Linked DNA regions of Homo sapiens: all the other regions are reported to be linked to region 5. Evidence: microRNA targets listed by miRTarBase, many of them from high-throughput screens and not tested one by one. Region 5 holds a microRNA gene; each other region holds the end of a gene's coding sequence.

Evidence for each region. Region 5 holds the annotated microRNA hsa-miR-8063 (UCAAAAUCAGGAGUCGGGGCUU, at 1,906-1,927, shown strand). A microRNA usually pairs through its seed, bases 2 to 8, with sites in the 3' UTR of a target mRNA and lowers its output. Matches are read on the target gene's strand: a 7mer-m8 pairs with bases 2 to 8, a 7mer-A1 pairs with bases 2 to 7 and ends in A, and an 8mer does both.
Region 1: the mRNA of SPRED3 is a reported target of hsa-miR-8063. Seed matches in the 3' UTR shown: 8mer at 2,339-2,346, 7mer-A1 at 1,292-1,298 and 7mer-A1 at 1,130-1,136.
Region 2: the mRNA of PITX3 is a reported target of hsa-miR-8063. Seed matches in the 3' UTR shown: 7mer-A1 at 3,421-3,427.
Region 3: miRTarBase lists EDIL3 as a target of hsa-miR-8063. Seed matches in the 3' UTR shown: 7mer-A1 at 3,175-3,181.
Region 4: miRTarBase lists EDN3 as a target of hsa-miR-8063. Seed matches in the 3' UTR shown: 7mer-m8 at 2,818-2,824 and 7mer-m8 at 2,115-2,121.
Region 6: the mRNA of RLIG1 is a reported target of hsa-miR-8063. Seed matches in the 3' UTR shown: 7mer-m8 at 2,391-2,397.

Annotation. Positions count from the first base shown.
Region 1 is chr19:38,395,460-38,399,547 of GRCh38, reverse strand. It overlaps SPRED3 (sprouty related EVH1 domain containing 3), which reads right to left. Exons shown (of 6, transcript NM_001394336.1): 6 at 1-4,068. The coding sequence ends at 3,403. Among named protein-coding and RNA genes, the nearest start is that of FAM98C, 5.6 kb to the left of the region's middle.
Region 2 is chr10:102,227,020-102,231,107 of GRCh38, forward strand. It overlaps PITX3 (paired like homeodomain 3), which reads right to left. Exons shown (of 4, transcript NM_005029.4): 4 at 3,170-4,082. The coding sequence ends at 3,495. ELOVL3 (ELOVL fatty acid elongase 3) reads left to right here. Exons shown (of 4, transcript NM_152310.3): 2 at 607-738; 3 at 1,398-1,549; 4 at 1,806-2,570. The coding sequence ends at 2,233. It also overlaps a transcript of GBF1 not described here. Among named protein-coding and RNA genes, the nearest start is that of ELOVL3, 2.8 kb to the left of the region's middle. RefSeq lists silencers at 2,839-3,007, 3,364-3,623, 3,634-3,733.
Region 3 is chr5:83,939,931-83,944,018 of GRCh38, reverse strand. It overlaps EDIL3 (EGF like repeats and discoidin domains 3), which reads left to right. Exons shown (of 11, transcript NM_005711.5): 11 at 451-3,465. The coding sequence ends at 600. Among named protein-coding and RNA genes, the nearest start is that of HAPLN1, 220 kb to the right of the region's middle.
Region 4 is chr20:59,323,725-59,327,812 of GRCh38, reverse strand. It overlaps EDN3 (endothelin 3), which reads right to left. Exons shown (of 5, transcript NM_207034.3): 5 at 1,821-3,482. The coding sequence ends at 3,354. Among named protein-coding and RNA genes, the nearest start is that of EDN3, 25 kb to the right of the region's middle.
Region 5 is chr15:36,970,670-36,974,757 of GRCh38, reverse strand. It overlaps MIR8063 (microRNA 8063), which reads left to right and starts at 1,857; the gene lies at 1,857-1,937. All of the region lies in intron 8 of MEIS2 (Meis homeobox 2), which reads left to right.
Region 6 is chr12:88,048,039-88,052,126 of GRCh38, reverse strand. RLIG1 (RNA 5'-phosphate and 3'-OH ligase 1) reads right to left here. Exons shown (of 7, transcript NM_001009894.3): 7 at 1,967-3,893. The coding sequence ends at 3,705. CEP290 (centrosomal protein 290) reads left to right here. Exons shown (of 54, transcript NM_025114.4): 53 at 1,694-1,773; 54 at 2,713-3,111. The coding sequence ends at 2,943. It also overlaps the pseudogene RNA5SP364. Among named protein-coding and RNA genes, the nearest start is that of RLIG1, 15 kb to the right of the region's middle.

The DNA of each region.
Region 1 (4,088 bases), not on the chromosome of region 5:
CCCCCTCCCCCGATGACAAGGCTGGGTCTTTGGCCCCCATCCTCCCCCACCACTTCAGCCTGCACTGACACTAACAATATTGAGGTCACAGACTGGCTTAGAAACAAGATCAGGAAGATATATGTTGGGGTGCCTCCCCCAAATCTGGGGGCCAAGCATCCGATCTGAGGGGCAAGCGGCTGGGAAATTGGGCCTGGGGGCTCCAGGGTCTGAGGTCTGCCTGGCTCCCAGGGCGGCCCTCCATGTACCCCTGATTTGGGGGCAATGAAGGGGAATCATGGATCAGAGGTGGGTCTCAGCAGGGAGCAGGACTGGGGGACCTGGGAGAGGCGCTGCTGGGAAGTGGCGGCCAGGGGACCTTTCCTTAGCCCCCACCGCTTCATCTGCAGATCCCACAGCACCGTACAGCACTCTGGTCCCCCGTCCCACCCCTCCCCAAAACGAGGTAGGTTAAGAATGGAGCTTCCCCCCCGCCCACCATGGAAGGGGGGAGACCGAGGCACAGAGAGGGGCATGGGGACCCAGGCTGCCCCAGCCCCCAATCCCTCCGCCCTCAGCTCTGGTGGGTCTGACAGTGATGAGAGCTGGGCAGAGTGGGGAGGGGAGAGACACCCCCGCTTTTCTCTCACCCATCCCAGGGTCTGGTTGGGAGTGCTGAATCTCACAGGTTCCGGATGTAATAAATAGTTAATAATTTAAAGGAAGAGACAGAGGACCTATCCCTTGAACCCCAACAAGGCCATCCAAGTCTGGGTAATGAAGAAAGGTTAAGTGCACAGTTCCAGATGCTTGGGGCCAGATGCAGGTCCCAAGCCCATACAACATTGAGACTGTCTTGCTCCAAGACCTTGAGGCCCCCATACAGGACACCAGATCTTCGATCCACTGGAAGCCCCATTTCACTTGGGGGAAAAAAGCCTGTGGCACCCCCCTTTGCACAGAAGAGACTCAGTGGGCCATGAAACAGGCTTTCAAACTTCCTGAAGCAACTTCTCACTCTAAAGTGGAAGAGAGCCAGGTGCAGTGGCTCATGCCTGTAATCCCAGCACTTTGGGAGGCTGAGGCAGGTGGATCATGAGGTCAGGAGTTTGAGACCATCCTGGCCAACATGGTGAAACCCTGTCTCTACTCAAAATACAAAAAATTAGCTGGGTGTGGTGGCACATGCCTGTTATCCCAGCTACTCGGGAGGCTGAGGCAGACGAATGGCTTGAACCCGGGAGGGGGAGGTTGTGGTGAGCCGAGATTGTGCCACTGCACTCCAGCCTGGGTGATACAGCGAGACTCTGTCTCAAAATAAATAAATAAATAAATAAATAAATAGGAAGAGAAGGGGTTAATGGAGGGGGAGAACATAAAAGGTGGGACTTGAACCTGGACTAGGAATTAAGGTTGTGCTTGAAGGAAGGTCTGCAAGACTGGGGGCTGTGGGACAGCAGAGCCATAACTAGCCTGAAAGTTTCCATTGCACACACTTCTTCTGAGGGCACAGTGTGGCCAGCAGACTGGTGTGACTTCCAGCTCCTCGAAACCCTGGGCTGTGTGCCTTCACTTAATGAAGACCCTGCATAATCATCTGTGACAATGCTGGGTCCTAGACGTGACAGTGAGGGAGCTCCTACTTGGTCCTTTTTTTTTTTTTTTAGAGACGGTCTCACTACATTGCCCAGGCTGGTCTCAAACTCCTGGCCTTAAGCGATCCTCCTCCCTTGGCCTCCCAAAGTGCTGGGATTACAAGGCATGAGCCACTGTGCCCCACCCTGGGTGGTCCTACAATGAGTTCCAAATGGTAGGGATCCCACCCTAAGATAAAGGGGTAATTCTGAGGATTGCTGGGGGCTTGGGCTGGGATCCTTGGGACCAGAATTCCAGAGGCTGGAACCTTGGGGTTTTAGGGGCCTATGGATGACAGGATTCAAGGGGCAGCAGGTCTCTGAGGTCCGACAAGTGGGGATGGGGGAATCAGGTGTAGAGGCAACTTGGGGTTCATCAGACTAGAGAGGTTTGAATCCAAAGAAATCTGGGGTCTGAGGGTGCTGGGGTCTTGGGGCACCTCGAATCTGAACGCCTCTGGTATGGAGGGATGAAGGTCTTGGATCAGGAACAATCCCAATGTTGTAGGGTCTTGAGCCTTGCATTTGGGGGTCAGTGGCACCTTTGGGGTATTGGATCCAGTGCTCCTAAAGTACCTTAGGGTCACTCAAGGGCTGAGGGCCAAGGGCATCAGAGGTCTGGGTCACCATGAGCATCCCCTCTTCTGGGAGCTGGACTCCCAGCCCTTAAGGGGTTGGGAATCTGTGGGTAGAAAGAAGCTGAAGATTCCAGGACATTTGGGGTCTCAAAATCCAGGTCCAGGAGGGACTGCAAGAGAGGGCTATTTGAGAACTCGAGACCAGTATCTCGGGTCCTGAGGTGTTGGTGGCCTTCAGTCGCACATCTGAGGACCCCAGGCACCTCTGAGTCCTATAAATGATATCCAAAGCTCCTGAGAACCCTGGCTTGGGGGTGGGTGGACCTATGGAGGTCTTTGATCCCTGGCTTCCAGAGCATCTTGGTGTCTGATATCTGGATCTTGGGGGCTCTGGGATGGGTCTCCCAAGTCATTTTGGTAAGAGAACAGCTCGTGTTTCAGTATATCCGAGCACTCAGTGCATCTTAAGAGTCTGGGGTCCCAGGGTGTCTGGGAGTTCCCTGGACATCTTAGACTTCAGTGTTCCCGGACTGGAGGCCAGGTCTGTGGGCACTAAGTCGTGGGTAGATTTGAGGGGCAGCATCTGGAGATTCCAGAGCATAACAGAGTTTCAAACTCTGTTTGAAACTTTCTCAGGGGTCCTGCTGTCTCAGGGGTCCTGGGACTATGAGAATGTCTCAGATGTGGGGGCACCAGGTCTTAGGTGAATATTCAGGAACTGTTTGTGGGTGACTCCAGGTCCTATGGTCTCAAGATCTGATCTGGGAGTTGAATAAAGGCAGAGCCAGTTATGGGCAAGTCCTGACTAATTGTGGGGCTGTAATCTGAGGGACATGGTGCCAGGCGTGACCGGGTTCTAGGTTGTTCATTTCAACAGGGACCTGCCCTTTTCGGGATCTATGTGCTCCCTGGCCTTTCTGAGATGCAAAGTATGGGGACGCCTGGAGCCTCCTCGTGGGGTGTGGGGGTGGGGGAACGCCAGAACTCAGGACGCCTGGGACTTCTTAGACAGACACCCCAATGAAGCTGGGGCTGGGGTCTCTCAGTCCTAGGTTTGGGTTCCAGGTTCCAGGTCTGAGATCTCTCAATCCAAACTCAAGCTCCAAGTTCCGGATGTGCCTAGGTTTGGGTTTTAGGTCCGAACGGAGTCCGGGGTCCTGGACCCTCAATTTTGGGTCCTCGGGCCGGCTAGGGGACCCACCAGGCCGTCCTCACCGCGCAGCCTCCTCGTGGCGACCCCCGCAGCCGGCGCAGCCGCATCGCGCTGCGACCCAGTGGCACGCGCGCAGGGGCGCGTAGCAGCAGAGGCAGGGCACTGCCAGGGAGAGCGCGGCCAGCGCGGCCCAGCGCGCGGCGGGGCGCGGGTGGCCCGGCTCGCAGGCGCACGGGTCCGAGAAGTCGCCCTCGGCGTCCGACAGGCAGTGGTAGAGCAAGCTCTCGGCGCACCACAGGCAGCTTAGACGGCGCACCAGGAGGCGACCCGGGTCCGGGGCCTCTGCGCAGCGGCCGCCACGCCCGTCTGCTCTGCGACGGAAGAGCGCGCGGCAATGCACGCAGCGCGCTGCCTCCTCCGCTTCCGGGGAGGCCTTGGCAGGCGCAGAGGATGGGCCCGGGCCGGGGGGTGGGCGAGCGGGGGGCGCTGGGGGCGCAGCCTCGGTCAAAGGGGCAGGTAGTGCCGCTGGGGGACCCAGGGCAGCGCCCCTCAACGCGCCGGTCTTGGCGAAGCGCACGACGCAGGTGGACAGGGCGAGGGGCGCGGGTGGCCCGGAGCGCCGGTAATCCTCGTAGCCGCGGCCGCCCCACCCCAGGCCCCCTGCCCCTGCCAGGGGCTCTGAGGGTTCCGGAATCCCCGTGAACGGTAGAAGCGGAGGGTAGCTCTGCGGAACGAAGGGACAAA
Region 2 (4,088 bases), not on the chromosome of region 5:
CCTTTACAATTATCCCATCGTTCCCCAGGTGCTCCACCGTTCCTGCTGTGGAGAAGGAGGCGAAGTCAGAGAGCTCTTCCAAGCTTTCCCCAGGAAGAGCTCTCTGGCTTTGCCTTAAAGCTCCCCAGAGGTTTTGGAGGCTGACTTTATGCTCCAACCAATTTGCCATACCCCAGCCAGGGAGAAGCTATTGCCACATTCTTCTTACGCCACAGCCCTGGTATGCTTCTAGGAGCCCCAACCAGGGAGAAGCTATTGCCACACTTCTTACACCACAGCCCTGGGCTGCTTCTAGGCGCGGGCCAGACAGCCGTCACCCACCTCTAACCCCACTGAGAGAGCAATAATCACAGAAACCTTGGACATAGCTCCTGCCCTGTGCTAGATACTTTGTATACGTTAATACCCCCAGGAGAGATGTAGTATTCGCGCTCTACAAATGAGGAAGCCAAGGCTCAGAGAATTAAGTTGGTTTTTCCAATGTCACATAGCTAGTAAGTGGCAGAACTGGGACTCCAACCCAGAGCACTCACCTGGAGAGATGAGTGGGCATTTCTCTAATCAGCACCCACCCATGAGCCCATCCCTCTGCCTTCTGCTTGCCAGGGCAACCTCATTCCCCATAGCCCTGATCTACCTGGTTCTCATCGCTGTGGGGCAGAACTACATGAAGGAACGCAAGGGCTTCAACCTGCAAGGGCCTCTCATCCTCTGGTCCTTCTGCCTTGCAATCTTCAGGTAAGACCCCATCCCACTCCCTGCCTCTTCTCTAGATCTTAGACCACCATTCTATCCCTTGAAGCTTTCCCGATTGCATCAACCTCCATCCTGTCCCCAAGTTGCCTTGTAACACTCTCCCCATCTCATTCTCGGCTTTAGTTCCCCTCCCAGCCTTCACCCTCTTCTGTTATATTATCCTGTTTTCCTTCTCTTTTAGACCCCTACCTGGTGGTCTCTGCTTTGTCCCTCTTGCCTTCGTAGAGTCTGTACTCGCAACTAATTTCTCCAGCCTCTAATAGTGTCACCTCCTAACACCCTCTCTCAAGACCCTCCAATAACTTCCCCATATTTTCTCCCCCAAACTCCTTCAGTCTTCCCCTATCCCTCTACACATCTCCTCCCAGGCTCCTAACCCCTCCCAAGAACCCCATTCCTTAACTCAACTTTCAGTCCCATCCCCCTGCATTCCCTGATCTTTCTCCAGCCCTCGTCTCCTCTAGACTACTGATTGGATCTACCAGATTGGCTTCAGGATCTCAGGAGCTTTGACCCACCCCCTGTGGACAGGTGGGGAGGTGGTAGAGCTTGGAACACAGTAACCTGGCCAAGCCGGGGGAAGGGTGGATTATTGGTGCCTGGGGATGACACTTACACCATCTTCCTTTGTCCCATTTCAGTATCCTGGGGGCAGTGAGGATGTGGGGCATTATGGGGACTGTGCTACTTACCGGGGGCCTAAAGCAAACCGTGTGCTTCATCAACTTCATCGATAATTCCACAGTCAAATTCTGGTCCTGGGTCTTTCTTCTCAGCAAGGTCATAGAACTCGGTGAGTGGCAAAGCTTTGTCTTTCTGGTGCCTTGTGAACTGCATCCTTCCTCAGGGCCCTCCCTTCACCCATCCCATGGAGGGTCTCTTTCCTACCCTTGGGTCCCAATAATACCTCTCACCCAAGCCCCTCTACAGATTCTCTGCCACAAAGACCCCCTTCCCTCCCCTGAGAATTTCTCCCGTGTCCCTACATCCAGTGCAGAGGGTGGTCCCAGCACTGGGTGGTATGCCAACTATGACTCTCCATCTCCCAGGAGACACAGCCTTCATCATCCTGCGTAAGCGGCCACTCATCTTTATTCACTGGTACCACCACAGCACAGTGCTCGTGTACACAAGCTTTGGATACAAGAACAAAGTGCCTGCAGGAGGCTGGTTCGTCACCATGAACTTTGGTGTTCATGCCATCATGTACACCTACTACACTCTGAAGGCTGCCAACGTGAAGCCCCCCAAGATGCTGCCCATGCTCATCACCAGCCTGCAGATCTTGCAGATGTTTGTAGGAGCCATCGTCAGCATCCTCACGTACATCTGGAGGCAGGATCAGGGATGCCACACCACGATGGAACACTTATTCTGGTCCTTCATCTTGTATATGACCTATTTCATCCTCTTTGCCCACTTCTTCTGCCAGACCTACATCAGGCCCAAGGTCAAAGCCAAGACCAAGAGCCAGTGAAGGTTTGGAGAGAACAATGAAGCTCCAGGCTCTCTCTTCTCCAGGGCACCAAGAGGCTGGGCTTAGTTTTGGGAGAATGATTAGGTTGCCTTACCTGCATGGTTTCCCCAGAGGATGTGTGCCCCAAGGTGGCTGGAATTTTTGACAGACAAGAAGGGTGACCTTGGGATGGGGGTGTGGTCTGTTACTTTAATGTTTCTGTTTTTAATGTGAAGGCCAAGCAGGCCCTGGGATGGGAGTGGGGCGGAGGAGGGTCCTAAGAGCTGATTATTTAATTTCTATCCAGAAATCTTTCTTCTTCTTGCTCTGTTTTTTTAAATTAAAGATTTCAACAAAATTTTGAGAGTTGGGGGATTTGGGGGGAAAGAGGGCTGCTGTGATGGCAGGAGGCTGCTACCAAGGGGATGATCTGCAGGTGGGACGCCTGAGGGTGTGTGGAAGGGTGAGAGGCACACACACAGACACTGAAAGAATCCTAGGCCTGGTAGGCACTTAACAAATGTCTGTTACAGACCAGAATTTTATTGCTGTTAGAGACCCAAGCCCCTCATAGGAACAGTGAGAAACAGGTGCAGAAAGGCGGAGTAACTTTATCTAAAGTCATAGGCTCCCTGAATAGCAGAGCTGACACCTACAAGGAAGCGTTGGAGACCAGATCTACCAGCTAGCCTCCCTGAGACCACGAGGTGGCGCCGCAGCACCGGCTGTGGCCGATGCCAGCCAGGTAGCCGGTTTCCCACGTCCCCCGCACGCACGCACCTCTTTGCTGCAGGAATCCCGGGCTGCCCCGACCTGGAGTAGGGGGGGTGGTGAGTGGGACTGAGTCCCTAGAAGCCTGGACCCTCACTTCGTTCCTGTACATCCAGCTCGCCTGTAGACAGTGGGGGAGGATGAAGGGAAGAGGACTCAAGCGCAACTTTGAATCATCACGCCTTCGACAGTCCGCGCACGTTTATTTCATTTATCTTTGAAAACGAGGGAGGGGAAGCCTGGAGAAGGCGGGATGGGCCAAGGGTGAGTTGGCCCCCGGGGAGCTGGTCCCTGTTCCTGGCTTTAGTCCCAGGGGCGCGGTCTGTGTGTAGGGCCTAGTCCACCCCTCAGGGCTGGGAGGGGAAGGCCCTCTCCTGAGCCGGTGCCCCCCAGCTGCCCAAACACCCCTTTCAGACCCTGGGGCGGGAGCAAGCCAGTCAAAATGACCCCAGTCCGCGGAGGCTGTGAATCGTTGCCCCCGCCCTCGGGGATGATCTACGGGCGGGGCCGCTCATACGGGCCTTTCCACGGCGTACTGGCACGGACTAAGGTTGGCTGCCGGGGGCGGCCCGTGCACAGCGGGGTAGCTGAAGGAGGCGTGCTGTTTGGCTTTGAGCCGCAGGCTGGCCAGGCTCGAGTTACACGGGTCCCGATAGACGTAGGGGGAAGAGGCGGCAGCCGCGGCGGCGGCGGCGGCCGAGGCATAAGGGCAGGACACGGCCCCGGAGGACACGGCGGCCGGAGCCAGCCCGGGGGGGCCCCCGCCCAGGCCCTGCAGGGCCCCAGGCCCTGGCACGGTGCCCGGGGCAGCCGCGGCGGAGGGCACCATGGAGGCGGCGATGGAGCTGGGTGGCGAGAAGACGGGCTGCGAAGCCAGAGGCCCCACGTTGACCGAGTTGAAGGCGAATGGAAAGGTCTTGGCGGCGAGCGGCGGGGCAAGAGCCTTGGGCGGCCAGTTGCCGTACGAGTAGCCGGGGTACACCTCCTCGTAGGGCGGCACCAGCCCCCCGAGCGGCGCCGCGAAGCTGCCTTTGCATAGCTCGGCCTGCTGGCTGCGCTCGCGCTTCCGCCATTTGGCGCGCCGGTTCTTGAACCACACCTGCGG
Region 3 (4,088 bases), not on the chromosome of region 5:
CACAGTCTGCTAACTCTCCCTCCCCTTGCCCCTTGTGAATGTGGAGGCCGCCTGCTCCAGATGATAGCTGTACTTTGCAAGCAGCTTGGATCTCTGAGTCACCCCGTGGAAGAGAGCATCTTCAGCAAGCTACATGACTAACGTCAGCCTGTGACATAAGCAAAAAATGAATACCTGTTGTATTTTTTTTAATTGAGAGAAACAAGTAGAGGAAAATGATAGACCTATGAATGTCTGCATTAAACAATAAAGGTTTAACTCTTTAAACATTAATTGACCATTTAATTTAAAATAATTATTATTAAAAAGAAGCTGCAATATATTTTGAAGAAAAGAAAATGAATAGTTATCAAATATCATGTTTGGGGAAAATGTTCCAAACAGGAACATAAAAATAATTTCAAAGAAAGAAGGCTGTGTGACTGACATTTTTCTGCTCTTCTTTATTAGGTTTTCCAGGGAAATTTTGACAATGACACTCACAGAAAAAATGTCATCGACCCTCCCATCTATGCACGACACATAAGAATCCTTCCTTGGTCCTGGTACGGGAGGATCACATTGCGGTCAGAGCTGCTGGGCTGCACAGAGGAGGAATGAGGGGAGGCTACATTTCACAACCCTCTTCCCTATTTCCCTAAAAGTATCTCCATGGAATGAACTGTGCAAAATCTGTAGGAAACTGAATGGTTTTTTTTTTTTTTTCATGAAAAAGTGCTCAAATTATGGTAGGCAACTAACGGTGTTTTTAAGGGGGTCTAAGCCTGCCTTTTCAATGATTTAATTTGATTTTATTTTATCCGTCAAATCTCTTAAGTAACAACACATTAAGTGTGAATTACTTTTCTCTCATTGTTTCCTGAATTATTCGCATTGGTAGAAATATATTAGGGAAAGAAAGTAGCCTTCTTTTTATAGCAAGAGTAAAAAAGTCTCAAAGTCATCAAATAAGAGCAAGAGTTGATAGAGCTTTTACAATCAATACTCACCTAATTCTGATAAAAGGAATACTGCAATGTTAGCAATAAGTTTTTTTCTTCTGTAATGACTCTACGTTATCCTGTTTCCCTGTGCCTACCAAACACTGTCAATGTTTATTACAAAATTTTAAAGAAGAATATGTAACATGCAGTACTGATATTATAATTCTCATTTTACTTTCATTATTTCTAATAAGAGATTATGTGACTTCTTTTTCTTTTAGTTCTATTCTACATTCTTAATATTGTATATTACCTGAATAATTCAATTTTTTTCTAATTGAATTTCCTATTAGTTGACTAAAAGAAGTGTCATGTTTACTCATATATGTAGAACATGACTGCCTATCAGTAGATTGATCTGTATTTAATATTCGTTAATTAAATCTGCAGTTTTATTTTTGAAGGAAGCCATAACTATTTAATTTCCAAATAATTGCTTCATAAAGAATCCCATACTCTCAGTTTGCACAAAAGAACAAAAAATATATATGTCTCTTTAAATTTAAATCTTCATTTAGATGGTAATTACATATCCTTATATTTACTTTAAAAAATCGGCTTATTTGTTTATTTTATAAAAAATTTAGCAAAGAAATATTAATATAGTGCTGCATAGTTTGGCCAAGCATACTCATCATTTCTTTGTTCAGCTCCACATTTCCTGTGAAACTAACATCTTATTGAGATTTGAAACTGGTGGTAGTTTCCCAGGAAGGCACAGGTGGAGTTATTTGTGAGAAGCAAAGTGTTTACTAATGACAAAGTAGTAAACCATTTTCAAGATGAAAACTGATTTCTATTTATTTTGCTTCAAAGGTCCTGAAAAAATAAGCAATTATCATAACAATTTGTTATTGATACTGGAGGTTTCATTGACATGTCTCTCAAATTAAAGCTCACACTGCCTCCATAAAAGTCTTCAACATCTAATTTATAAGCTTTACAAGTATTTATTTTATAAGGCTTAGACAGAATTATTGGAGTTTTAAATTAAGTGTATTGGAAAAGAAAGGATGGTATGTGTATGAAATGTTAAGATCCTACGCAACACTGCTATTTTTTTCCTTTAATATTTGTGCTGCATAACAAAAGCCACTAGACTGTTACTGTCTTGTCTGTCCATGTGTTAACAGCATTTCTTAATGATGTATATATGGAGTGGTCTTCAATCATAGTGAAGAATTTAAAGAGAAAGTCAATTGTATTGGCATTTTTAATAAGAACAAAATTAGTTCGTCTAAGGGGACTGGCTGGCCACATATTTGTTCCTTGCCCATATGCTTTCTACTTCTTGTTCTTATTATGAAATTATGAATTTGAAGCCTCTGAAATGGTGATCAGTTTTCAACATCTTTCAAAAACAAAATTACTATTTCCTCCATATTGCCTTTTTTAGATAACTTTAAAGTTAGGATTTTAAAATATTTGTAACTGGCTAAATTTTAAAGTCGTGACAAATAATTACTTAGGTTCAGAAATATACACACACTTACTCTTTAGCCAGTTTCTTTCAAGGTTTACTGTCCCATCAGATATCTAGCCATTTTCCTTTGCAAATTACATACCTTCTTAAGAGTGTATTTTTAAGATTATTACTTACGCTTTATGATGATATAGTTTTTCAAAATTATTTATAGCTTCATATGATGTTTTGTAATTTTTTCTATTGATACCTGTTTTAAAAATATTTTCCAAGGAAGTTGATTAAAATTATATTTGTTACCTTTTAGAAAAAGCATTGAAATGAGTTTCTCTTGCTTTTTCATTTTCCCTCTGCTTTATATGCTCTTCGCAATACATCATGTCCAACGGGATACCTATTGTTCTCATGACACCCAAAATTGATGAGAGCAAAGGGGTCGCACCATATGGAAATGTTGAAAACTATTGTAAAGTAGTATTATGAAGTAGCTTTTGTGTCATTCATGTCGATGACATGAAAGTGAAGTAAATTTATTCTATGTAAATTCACACTAAAACCAGTACAGTACCATAAGTAGAATACATGTAAGAATCACCTAGTCTTCACTATATTGAGTAAATATAACATGCTAATTTTACAATTAATGAAACTAAACTTTTAAACATCTCCATTATATCTACATCCTTTTGAAGGTATTTATCATAGTTGCCAATTTTAATTTTAGGATTGACTTTCTCTTTCTGAATGACTTCATAAAGTTTGGTGTGAATTTTGAAGACTTGGGTTACTAATGATTGTATCTTTGCTAGTCAACAACTTATGAAATATACTCAATGCGTCTGATGTGTCATTAAGTGCAGAAATAACTAAGACACAAATAACCTTTGCAAACCTTCAAGCTGTGTAATATTCCAATGTTGTTTTTTTCTTTGTATATATACTTATATCACGTAGGATGTAAAACCAGTATGACCTTGTCTAGTCTCCAAACTTAAAATAAACTTTTGAAAAGCTGGGATTCTTTTGAAGCAGTTGTAATTAAACACATTTATAAGAATACACAAATTGTCTGAATGTGAATGCCCACTACTCTTGACCACATACTTGGTTCATTTTTGCCTTGCACAGGACAGTTGAACGGATACAGAAAAAATAGAAATTACAACAACCTCTAAATATATATTGATATTAGCTAAACTGGTCTTTTGAAGATTATTAAAATGTATGCATTCTTCCTGCTCCTTTTAGATGCAGAAGTTTTACTAGAATATTCTTAATCCAAAGTCATTTTTGGCCTCATGTATAAAGCATTGTGCACCAGGACTGATCTGCCCATTGTTAATCAGATGATATTGCTATCATTTCTATAGTTTTTTCAGTTCATGATGCTCAGGAGTATGATGAAGAAATCCAGTCAGTAGTAAGCAATAATATAACAGTAATAATGTATTTATCCATGTAACATTAGCTATTGAATAATGAAAATCATAACGTGGATTCTTCATAAATCCTGTTTCTAGCTCTCTGGAAGTCACTGGTGAAATACTAAATCTGTGTACTTGCTATTGTTTTGACATTTTCTTAGGATGCAAACAATTTAGGGAGGAATTAAGATATGAAAGGTTACTACTTATTTGAGCTTCAGTGAGTTTCTGATAGCTCCCAGAACTGACTAATCACGT
Region 4 (4,088 bases), not on the chromosome of region 5:
CAGCCTTTTTTTGCTGGGCTTCAGCTGAGGCAACCTTCACAGGTGAACAGGATCCCGGGCTCAGAAGGGCTGGACGCCCGTGGTTTAATGCACGATCTGAAGTTCTTACTCCTTCTAAGCCAGGGGCCCTACAGTTTCCATAGCCAATCCTGCTCATAAATCCATAGACTGCTCCTTCATTCCTCCACCCAGATGCCAGAAAAGCCTGCCACGTCTGGGCCTCGGACTGCCCATGACTCCTGGAAGTCCTTGGCTGTCCTCCTCTGCCTGGGGCCTCCGTGGCACCTGGGCAGCTCCTGGACTCCAGGACCTGTTAGTGCCTCGAGTGAACGCTGCAGCTCCTGCTGTGTGCTGCCCCACATCCTGCAGAAAAAACCCAACGCTCTCAGTCCATCAAAGTCAAAACTCTCTAAGATGACTTTAATTAAAACAAGAGGCTCCTGGGTTTTCTCAGATCAGGTAGCCATCAAACTCAAACCTACTCCTCTTCTTGGATTTCTCTTTGCTCTTTGGCTGGGCCTGTCTTTGTCCAATTCCCTGCCTCCCACGGTCTCTGATTCTTTATTCAAAAGGCAGGTGGAGAAGGTAGGAAAGGAAGTAAGAAAGAAAATGAAGGAAACCCCACTCTTTCCGAACATCCCCAATCCCCCAAGACGTCTTATAAGCTTTAAAGACTTGCAGGTGTGATCATTGCTGTCTTCTGGTTATCAAGAACTCAGCAGCCACACCCTTTCCCTAGAATCCTGAGCCCCCAGCAGTGCCCTCTCACTAGAATCCTGAGCCCCCAGCAGTGCCCTGTCTCTAGAATCCTTAGCCCCCCCAGCAGTGCCCTCTCCTAGAATCGAGCTCCCTCGCAGTGCCCTCTCCCTAGAATCCTGAGCCCCCCAGCAGTGCTTTCCATAGAATCCTGAGCCCCCAGCAGTGCTCTCCCCCTAGAATCCTGAGCGCCCCAGCAGTGCTCTCCCCCTAAAATCCTGAGCCACCCATCAGTGCCCTCTCCCTAGAATCCTGAGCCCCCCAGCAGTGCTCTCCCTAGAATCCTGAGCCCCCAGCAGTGCCCTCTCTCTAGAATCCTGAGCCCCCCAGCAGTGCCCTCTCCCTAGAATCCTCAGCCCCCCAGCAGTGCTCTCCCTAGAATCCTGAGCCCCCCAGCAGTGCTTTCCATAGACTCCTGAGCCCCCCAGCAGTGCTCTCCCCCTAGAATCCTGAGCGCCCCAGCAGTGCTCTCCCCGTAAAATCCTGAGCCACCCATCAGTGCCCTCTCCCTAGAATCCTGAGCCCCCCAGCAGTGCTCTCCCTAGAATCCTGAGCCCCCCAGCAGTGCCCTCTCTCTAGAATCCTGAGCCCCCCAGCAGTGCTCTCCCTAGAATCCTCAGCCCTCCAGCAGTGCTCTCCGTAGAATCCTGAGCCCCCCAGCAGTGCCCTCTCCCTGGAATCCTGAGCCCTCCAGCAGTGCTCTCCATAGAATCCTGAGCCCCCCAGCAGTGCCCTCTCCCTAGAATCCTGGGCTGCACAGGCATCTTTGGCAGGGCCACAAGGAAGCCTCCCTATTGCTAGGAAGGCACAATGGCCTAGGGGAAGAACCAGCTCTCTCCCCAGGTTTCTCTCTTCCTGACTGCTGTGAATGTTTTATCTTCTTGGAACGGTCCCCAAACCCCACTTCTTCCTTAATATTCAGGCAGCCCCTCATCTAGCTCCATAACTGACTTTAGATGGATTCCACTTCCCAAACCACAACTTCTTCCCGTCCTCTCCAGAGGTCCATGAAAAGTTGATGCGCAACCCCGCACATAAAGACAGTGAGGAAAAAAACCCACAAATCAGAGCAAACTTTAGGTTTTTTATTAGGCTTTTGACAGTACTTTCTGAGTATTTGAGCAATTGATGGGTTTCTCTCTGATACCATCTTGCCACGGTGCCAAACAGCACATATGCATTTTAAAAATGTAATTCAAGCTCTAAGGAGTATGAGTTTGTATTCAGAATGCAATTTAAAATCTACCTACCTATCTACCTCTCTATACGTATATACAGTGACTACTTTGAACAGATCCACATAAAGGAGTTGGAGTGGAGAACAGTTTCACAATAAATAATCGCTTCTCTAAACTGTACAAAATCCTACCAGCAAATCAGCCACTTTCATTTCCTCATGATAGGTCATCACTTTTATACCTGTAATAACTTATGAAATACACACAGAGGATTTAACATTTGGTCAAGGCCAATGCTCTGTCATACACCATCTTAAATGTCTCTCTACGGGGCCCTGGACACCCACTCAAATGCCGTTTCCTATCTCTCTGTGACTGGGTTGGGGAGATGGGCAGCCCTCCCCTGCGCAGGCGACTTTACATGGTGGGATAACATCTCCACACTCACAGTAAGCTCGGCTCGGTGGGAAGAGCGCAGCTGAAAGAGATTTTGAACTGTCAGACGGTATAAGTTGTTGCCAATTTATATAAACAGGAATTTACATAATTTACAAAGAATTTGTGTTCGTGACTTATTTTGAAGCCATTCCCCAAAGATCCACATTTACTCATGAAAGCAAATATTCAACCTAATAGCCTTGAGCTGGGGCTGTCTTTACAGTCGGCTTCCTGCAAACAAGGCCTGGGAACTCCACTGTGTATCGGCCTGGTGTCTATACAGAATACAGAGGGTCAGTCACTGAACAGGAACAAGCTCTGTATTGCAGATACTAACTTTCTCATTTTCTTGTCACAAACATCAAGGATCCTTTTTTCTTCTTCCTTCATTCTTTCGAGATACATTCTTTTGGTGGGTATCAAGCACAGCTGAAAATTTCTCTGCCAAAATCCCATAAGCTTCAAATTCATAAACTCCTGTAGAGCTATGATCTGTGTCTAAAGCCGACGCCTCGTGGCCCTCACTGACATACACCATGCAGCCTATTCTAGGCAAGGATATGAAAGTCGCATGCTTCTGCTGCACGGGCATTTTGCATTTATTACAAGATGGACATGTGTTTACATTTGCAAAGAGTTAGCTTGGAGTCCACTTATTCTCCAAGAGAAGTCATGTCAAAAGCCAGTAAGTGGCTTTCCAACTTGCCAAAACTCTCCAAAACCAATTTCCTGCATGAAACCGGAGCTGCAGGCGTCATGCTCTGGGGCACATCTGGGATCATTTTACTCATTAGGAAAACTGGGGTCATTCGGATTTGGGCATTCTTGCCGTGGGGGGGGGGTATTGTTAAGTGGGGACTCTTTGGGTGGGTGTTCTGCCCCAGGCAAATTCACTTCTTGTCTATAAAGAGGTGGAAATCTGAACTGTGTGTGAGCAATGACAGAAGCCTCCCGAGACCAGGATGCTGCAGGCCTGTCCTCCTAAGGGGCTCCTTCCTGAAAGAGGCAGCGGGGGCAGGTAGATGGAGCGAGGGCGAGTCCACTGCCGGGCATGAGCTTTGGATGGTGGAGGTCTAAAGCCTGCTTGCTTTGTTGGTCCTTGACTTCAACCTGTCTTGGGGAAAGGGGGCAAAAGAAAAAAAAAGAAAGGTATGTTATGAAAGTGTAGCTCTGTAGTTCTGTGAAGCTGAAAAAGGGAACGTCTTCCCACTGCCTCTCCAGCCTGTTCCCTGATTGGAACTGTATGTACCCTCTTCCCAGTGCTTCTCAGCAATTTCCGAGCCTACCACCAGACTGGAAAAGTGTGAAAAGAATAACACCAGCAGACAAGGCTGCTAGGGGCCCTCCCGCAGCCTGGCCCCATCTTTGATTACCACAAGCTAAGGATGGTGACAGCTTCCACTCTGAGAATGTGAATCTGGGAATTACTAACTTGAATCTTGCAAGAAAGCAAGAACATTGGCTTAATAAGAGACTTTTTCTTCCCAAGTAAAGCTTCTTACTAGAGCTTTACATGACTCATAGAGACCTGGAAGAACCACTTTTCCAGGCCCTGCTGGGACATCTGCACCACCAATTGCATCTTTTGAACATGTGACATAGAACAGTAATAATCACCACAACAGCAAAAGGACCGGTGTGCTTCTCCTATATAGGGCTCCCTTCTGGCCGTTCCCTGAGCACACTCTAGGGCGTTTGCACTCACCGGTTCCCCTA
Region 5 (4,088 bases):
TCAACTGAACATGGCACGCAGATTTAACAGTAGGACCTGGTTCCTCATGCTGGCTGGTTCCTCATGCCATATCCATCTGATACTGGATTTAGCTTACAGAGGACGTTAACCCATGTAAGTCAAAGCCACAGACTTAAACATCCAGAAAGTATAAGGTGGGCTGAGGGGCAGCCCTGTAAGGTAAGATCTTATTTCAACGTGATTAAATGCCTTCTATTAGGAAAATTGCTTTTTTGCTTCTGTTTTTCATATGTAAATGTTAACGTGGTATGTCATAGCTCTCAAATAATTTGGGAGAATATGGAAAATCATTGAAATGTTGATAAACCAAATTATTTAATTTTTGGAATATGAACAATTTGATTTTTGGAGTGTGAACAAAAATATTACTAATGAAATCAGTGGACTTAATGGTCTTACTGGGGTCAACTTCTGTGGCTCGATGGAAAGAAAAAATAAACGAACTATGTAGGAGCTTGAAATATGAACACTCAGAATTCTGAAATTCATTTTTTGAATTTCACTATGATGTTTGGTGTTTTAAAACACAAAATTATAGATTCAATATCAGCCCTGATATAGAATGTTCTGAAATAATGAAGAGCTGGCATTTCACAATACAGGATAACCAGACAAGAATTTATCTGTACCTGAAAGTTTGGTGACACTCTTCGAATTTCTAGGAAATGGAAATGTGACTGATTTTTATTGAGAGTTTTCAAGGTCAAAGATAGGAACTGCTCTCAAGGCATGATAGCTAGAAAAATCGAGGGGGAAATTGATGTGAAATATTGCTGAATTAAGTGTTTAGAAATACGTAAGTACAAGTTCTGGCAGGTATCCATAGACAACAAGGCATATATCATCTTTAAATATCATAAGGTTAATTTTGGAAATCAGTGGATTTGTATATCTCACGAACATTTCAAGTGGAATACTGGCTTTTTTTTTTAAATAAGAAGAAAACAATGTCATTAGTTTTTAGGGTTTTTTTAATTAAAAGTTCAGTTACAGTTTTTTAGTGTTAATATTTTAACTTCTTATTTGAACGTCATTACTCCAGTCATCCTCTTTATTTTTTCAACTCTTATTATGTGCAAAGCACCAAACCTGATTCTTCTAATTACAACTTGTATTTTACCATGGCAATTCGGATAATTTAAAATAGATGAACGCTTTGGGTTTATTCACTCATGTTTTCTTTTTTAAACCAATGTTTTATAACACCTACTAAGTTCCAGGCTCTTTATTCTATAGTTTTATGCCTACTCTCCTTTTCTCCATTAGAAGAATGCAGATCTAAGCTTTAAAGAGGCAGCAGCATCCAAATAAGAGTCAGTGCGCTTAACCAAAGAACAGCTTTTAACTGTTTCCTAGTGAAACATTTTGAAATAAAGGTCTTTCTACCGGGGCAATAGGTGTTGTGCCAGTGTCACACCAGAGAGTAGAAGCCTTTGAAGAGCCCTTTTGTGACTTGGCCACTCTGCAAAACTCTGTGTCTGAATCCTCAAGCTAAGTGGAATCTTGATTATGTTTTCTATTTGTAAATGCTCTACAGCTTATCCAGCATGATTCTATCATTTTCTTACTTAATCCTCCCAAATACCTGTAAAGCAGGTATTATTGTCCTATTTTATAGATGAGCAAACTGAGGCTTAGAGAGATTAAGTGACTTTAGTTTCCGATGGCCAAGTGGAAACTAAAGCTTAGTCTTTCTTCCACAGCTGTGTTGGTGTATATCGACAAGTAAAAGATGTCTATGCAAACACAGACTAATTCTAGTACATACTTAAGAGATTTAAAAGATAGTTGTTCAGTCAGCCCATACAAAGAAATTGTTTCTTAGTCCTAAGCAATAGAGGCAGTTTCAACAGATGTGTAGACTTTTGATATGAGAAATTGGTTTCAAAATCAGGAGTCGGGGCTTTACTGCTTTTCATGCACAGAAAAAAAAAAGTGTATCTCTATGAATTGTCACAACTGATTCCTCTAAATTCTGCTTTAGAAAAAAAGAATTTGTTATACACTTGAATCTTAAACTGTAGTAAAATTAAGGTCTTTTGGAAACCAGGAGAGGTGTTGGTCCCTGGGGTTCCTTTGAATCATATCAGAGTACACTATTGAAAGAAGGAGAAAACAGGACAAAAAATATTTTAAAAGGCATAAGACACATAAATGAATTTTTAAAAATAGTTTCTATTGGCCAGGTGCGGTGGCTCACACCTGTAATCCCAGCACTTTGGGAGGCCAAGGTGGGCGGATCACTTGAGGTCAGGAGTTCGAGACCAGATCATTGGGTACCTTGAAGGCCATGATAAACATTTTCGTCTTCAGCCTGAAAATAATGGAAAGCCACTGAAGCATGCCAAGCAGTAGAGTGACAAAATCACACGGGTCCTTTGCAGGGATCACTCTGGCTCCATTCTGGAGAACAGAAGGAGGACTAATGTTAATGCTCACCAGCTAGTCAGGATGTTTGTTTTTTTAAACTCAGTCCTTTTAGTTACACTTTATCTCTTAAGGTTCATTCTCTTCCTACTACATCTTATCATAACTTACTTTTGTGCTACTCAGGCAGAAGTTTTTCTTTTTTAAAACTTTTTATTGACAGCATAACGGAACATCATGAAAAAATTTTGCCACCTGAAAAATACCATATTCTCATTTCTTCAATAAAGTTAGTTTTACATTTATAGTTTCTGTTACTATATTGTTCTCCTATTGATATTGCAATGTCTTTATCATATTCCATTGAGATGTATTAAAATTTAGTTACGTGTTGCTCCACACTTGGACATTTAGGTAAGAAGTTTTAACCGAGGATGACAGGGATCAGTGAAATGCTGTCCAAATATATTCTTTTCCATTTTGCAGCAATAGAAACTAAGTTGGGAGAGCATATTCTGCCACTTTCAACCCCAATTATGTGAAAATCTCCCTTTATGAAGAATGTAAAGTCTCTGAGTATTTGTATTAAGAGTAATGCATGTTGCTTAGGCTGTTAAGGAAATATTGATTTCTGACCCTTAACTGAAATACTTAGCTTTCATTTTTCTTCTTTTTACATGAATTGTGTATATTGTGTTCCCCTCAGGGAAAACTTAAAAGCATTTTGTGTTATGAAGGCTCCATTCTAGGATCTTATTGCTTTTGAGATGAATAAATGGAATGCTTGCTATCACTGGAACAGCCCTTTTTTTTTTTTTTTTTTTTTTTTTTTAATGTAACAAGGCATACAAGTAATACAGGGCTGAATTTGGCCCCAGAACTTCTGAAGTTCCAAGCCAGTTTCTTACGGCCAAATTTAGCTTCCAGCTTTCAGTTGATGAGGAGCTTTGGCATATAGGCAATCTAATTTTTGTTCAGTAAAAACCTCCTTGGGTGTTTTAAATATAACTTTAAAATTTGTATTACCAGGTGATGCTTAAGCATTTCTTAGACATTGACTCTAAATAATTGCTCAGAAAACAATGTGCCTTAAAGGTGTTTTATACCAGCCTTCGAGGTATTAGAATGAGATGAGTTGGCGCCAAAACATTTCAATATGCTATAAGGAGATGAAATATGGCCAAACAGGTTTTTATGTTCTGATTATTCCTTTTTCCTGTTACTAGCCAGAGGCAGGTAAATCGACTTTACATCCCCCACCCCCCCAAGCCCACCACCACAGCAATTTTATTTTTATCAACCCCTTAGGAAATTTCAGAGGGTTTTTTTTTTCCTATTCTTTGAACACATACAATGGGAAAATTAAAACTTCTAAAAGTTTCTTATCTATTAATCTGTTGATGAGATGTTGCTTTAAACACATTTTATATTACTAATTAATTTAATTATACATACTGCAGTTGTATTAACACATTTTCTGTTCTCTGCTCTAACGTGACACAGTGCCCTCCCGCAGCCACCTTAACCTAAAGCTTTAATTGCTTTCTCCTTAGCCTCAGCTCATGTTTGATTTATCTGATTTCTTTGTATAAAGATTCTCTAGTTTACGATGTGTACACAGTCATTAAATTGGTGTTGATGTTTATGCAGTGAACTTGCCAACTGGTTACAGCGGACATCCCTTTATGAATTTATGATGG
Region 6 (4,088 bases), not on the chromosome of region 5:
GAGTTGTACTAGACACTATGCTAATTGCCTTACAAGCATTCTATATTTACAACCATATATGATAGGTATTACTGTCTCCATTTTATGTGATAAACAAATTCAAAGTGGTTAAGTAACCATTCCCTAAGCCAGCTAGGAAATAGAGGCAGGATTAAAATCTAAATGTATGAAACTCCACAGCTCCTTGGCATTCCTAGTCCTTAACCCGCTATGCTATGCTACGTCTTGGTAACTAAAAGTACATATTAAATACTCTCAAAATATGTCTCATAGCAGCCAGCTTGGTATGTACACTAGACACAGTATTAATGCTGTTGATGTGAGGAAAATTTTATAATTTTCCTTCCATCCATATACTAACCAGGCCCAACAGTGCTTAGCTTCTGAGATCAGAGATCAGGTGCATGTGCATTAAGGGTCATATGGCCATAGATAGTTCTCTAATCTTTCCATTCCTCAGTTTCTTAAGGGAATTTCTGAACCCTCAAAATTCCTTATTTCCTAAGTAGACAGATTACCTGTCATTTTTCAAAGATTAAGGCTTAAGATCAAACCAGAACTGTTTTGGAAATTCTAAATCACTGTCTATATAAATGGCAAGATAACTTTTAAGATATTTATACCAAGCCCAGTACAGTAGCACACCACACCTGTAATCCCAGCACTTTGGGAGGCTGAAGTGGGTGGATCACATGAGGTCAGGAGTTCGAGACCACTCTGGCCAACATGGTGAAACCCTGTCTCTACTAAAAATATAAAAATTAGCCAGGCATGGTGGCACTTGCCTGTTATCCCAGCTACAAGGGAGGCTAAGGCAGGAGAATCGCTTTAACCTGGGAGGCAGTGGTTGTTGCAGTGAGCCAAGATTGCACCACTGCACTCTAGCCTGGGCGACAGAGTGAGACTGTCTCAAAAAAAAAAAAAAAAAAAAAGATACTTGTCCCAGCCATGAAAATGTTTGCTGCCCCTTACTTTCGCAAACTTTTAGTATTTTATTATTTTTCAATGGCTGTAAAATATGACTTATTAAATGTAGTATAATATAAAGAAAAGAGATATCTAGCAAAGATAGCATTAAAGCAAAAATCCTATTTGCCTGCTGATAAAGTTAGAGGTGTTAACTTGGAGGGTGAATCCAATAAATTAGAACTTTTGTGCTATATTTGGAGACTTTTGTTTTCCTACCAAAGTATCAGGGCTATGTCTTACTTATCTTTGTATTACACAGCCTGCATGACACGTTTTGCACATAGTAATTGCACAGTAAATGTGTAATAACCTACATGGAATAGCCAGTGTTGTGTTGGATAGCGGGAGCATTTGGCTAGCTTATGGTTATAGTCCCTTACCCAACAGTCTGCTTTTCTTCTGTTGTACTTTTAGTACCTAACAAGTTTCCCTGGCTTTAGGATTTTTTCCATGTAAAATTTCTATCATGTGAAGAAAAAATAACTTGGCCTACACTTCTAATACCTAGCACATACCTCTTTCTGCCTGCTATGAAATTATAATACTTGATGGAGGGAGGCAGCATTAAGTGTTTACATCCTGAAGTATTTCAGCCATAACATCCAGTGTTTTCCAGGTTCTAGGTTTCATAAAATGTATCTCTGTTCTCTAGAACAAATCCATTACCTTGAACTCATTCGTAGTGGGAAAAAGCTGAGTCTAATTTGTATGACTTTTTCAACAGATGCTGATCAACTAAAGGAAAAAATAAAAGATCTAGAGACACAGCTCAAAATGTCAGATCTAGAAAAGCAGCATTTGAAGGTAATATTTAATTATATTTTAGTATCGTTTTGTGAAAACAGCTGTTGAAAACTATTTTCATTACCATCTTTAACTACGTATCCTAAAAAATTCAGTAATAACATCTTATATTTGACCTTTATATTGCAAAGTTAATTATGTTCATCTGACTATTCCTAACATATTAGAGTTAACAAAAAATTCAGACTCAACATAGGATTAAGTAGTAAATTTATTTTTTAATTGTAACAAATATATGCCATTAGTATGTTCTTAAGTTTTGGGTCACATTGGCAACAGTGTCTTTATTTTTTTTTTGAAATTCTTTTCAGGAATCCTAAGGTTATAGTTCCCTTAAAAAAATATTTGCTGTTTTACCTCTTTTAAGACTGTAAACAGGACAAAAAGGCATGGATATGAGAATTAGCTAGTGATCACTGGCTATTCTAAATAGTCACTAAGGCTTGAATTGTCTCTTCACCAGATGCCTGTCAGAAGTCCCAAAGGTTTCCCTGATCATATTAATAACTTTATAAAAAATTGATCATTATTCATTAAATATTAGATATTAGTAAGGAAAATATAAATGAAGTCTAAACCAAAACTCTTAACCAGACTAACTTCAATGTTATGAATCACAAAATCTTTTTGATTGATTGCTCTATTGACAAGCTCTTATATGCTTTTAGAGAAAGATTAAGTCCCATTATAAGAGATGATAAATTTTAGTCAAAGACTAGAACACAACTTACAGAATACATAACTGGACTTGACAGTTAACAACTTAGTTATTTACACTGTACAATGGAACAAAGAAAAATCTTAATTCTTCTGCCTTTATTGCTGTATTTGACCATTCAGGAATACTTTGGCTTTCATATTTACAATTAAATCTCCTTGTTCAAACGTAAAATATGTATATTTCCTATATGCAACTTTTAAAGATAATGTTTCCATTAGGAGGAAATAAAGAAGCTGAAAAAAGAACTGGAAAATTTTGATCCTTCATTTTTTGAAGAAATTGAAGATCTTAAGTATAATTACAAGGAAGAAGTGAAGAAGAATATTCTCTTAGAAGAGAAGGTAAAAAAACTTTCAGAACAATTGGGAGTTGAATTAACTAGCCCTGTTGCTGCTTCTGAAGAGTTTGAAGATGAAGAAGAAAGTCCTGTTAATTTCCCCATTTACTAAAGGTCACCTATAAACTTTGTTTCATTTAACTATTTATTAACTTTATAAGTTAAATATACTTGGAAATAAGCAGTTCTCCGAACTGTAGTATTTCCTTCTCACTACCTTGTACCTTTATACTTAGATTGGAATTCTTAATAAATAAAATTATATGAAATTTTCAACTTATTATAAAAGTATATACTTGAAGACTTGTTACAGCCATCAAATAGGCAGTGAGCTCTGGTGAATTTCTCTACATTCATAATGCTTTAAGTTTTTTAAAGAATATGAGGGTAAATTCAGCAATTTTAAGATTTAAAATTGGAGTTTATATATACTTATTTATACATGTGTTAAGATTCTCAAATCCTATGATATATACACAGATGTAGACATACACACATATAGGTTATGAGGTTGAGCCGTATGTTTTGTTAAATATCTAGCAAAATTAAATTGAGCTTAAACTATTTAATTTTGAAAATTAGTGACATTAAATTGTTGTCTTTAAATTACCACTCAGTTATAGTGAAGAGAATCCAGCCTTTGTCCAAGCTTAGGAGCTTACTATTACTTATGTTTTTATGGCTAGAGATTAAAATTAATTTGCTGGTTTTTAATAAAATTTTGAATAGGTACTTGAAACTGGAAAATTCATTTCTTCACAAATGGTAGAAAACATATTGATGTTTCATAATGAACAGAAACCTTGAGATATTTTTAAATATGGTAGAATATTCAAGATTAGAATATAATGATAAACTAATTTTATTTGCATTTTATACATCAAATATTATATCTTTGAGTCTAACAAATTTCTGATTATCTATTTTTAAAAAATGATTAAACAAACACTTAATATCAAAGGCAGAGTCACATTTGTTCAGGTTCATGTTGATAATAACTGGTCTTGAATTCATGTAAGTATCTGGAATTGGCCAGCATAAGCCAAGATGATGGCGATGGACCTGGAAAGAGAAAAAAGGTATTAGCTTTAGCATACAGATACTATCTTCATTCACTTAGAAATATTTGAGTGCCCACTGTCTGCCAGGTACTGGGTAAGACTCCACTTTATCTTACTGTTTTTTTTTTTATAGCTGGTCTTCTCCTGACATATTACATATTTGTTTATTGTCTATCTTCCCCATTAGAATGTGAGC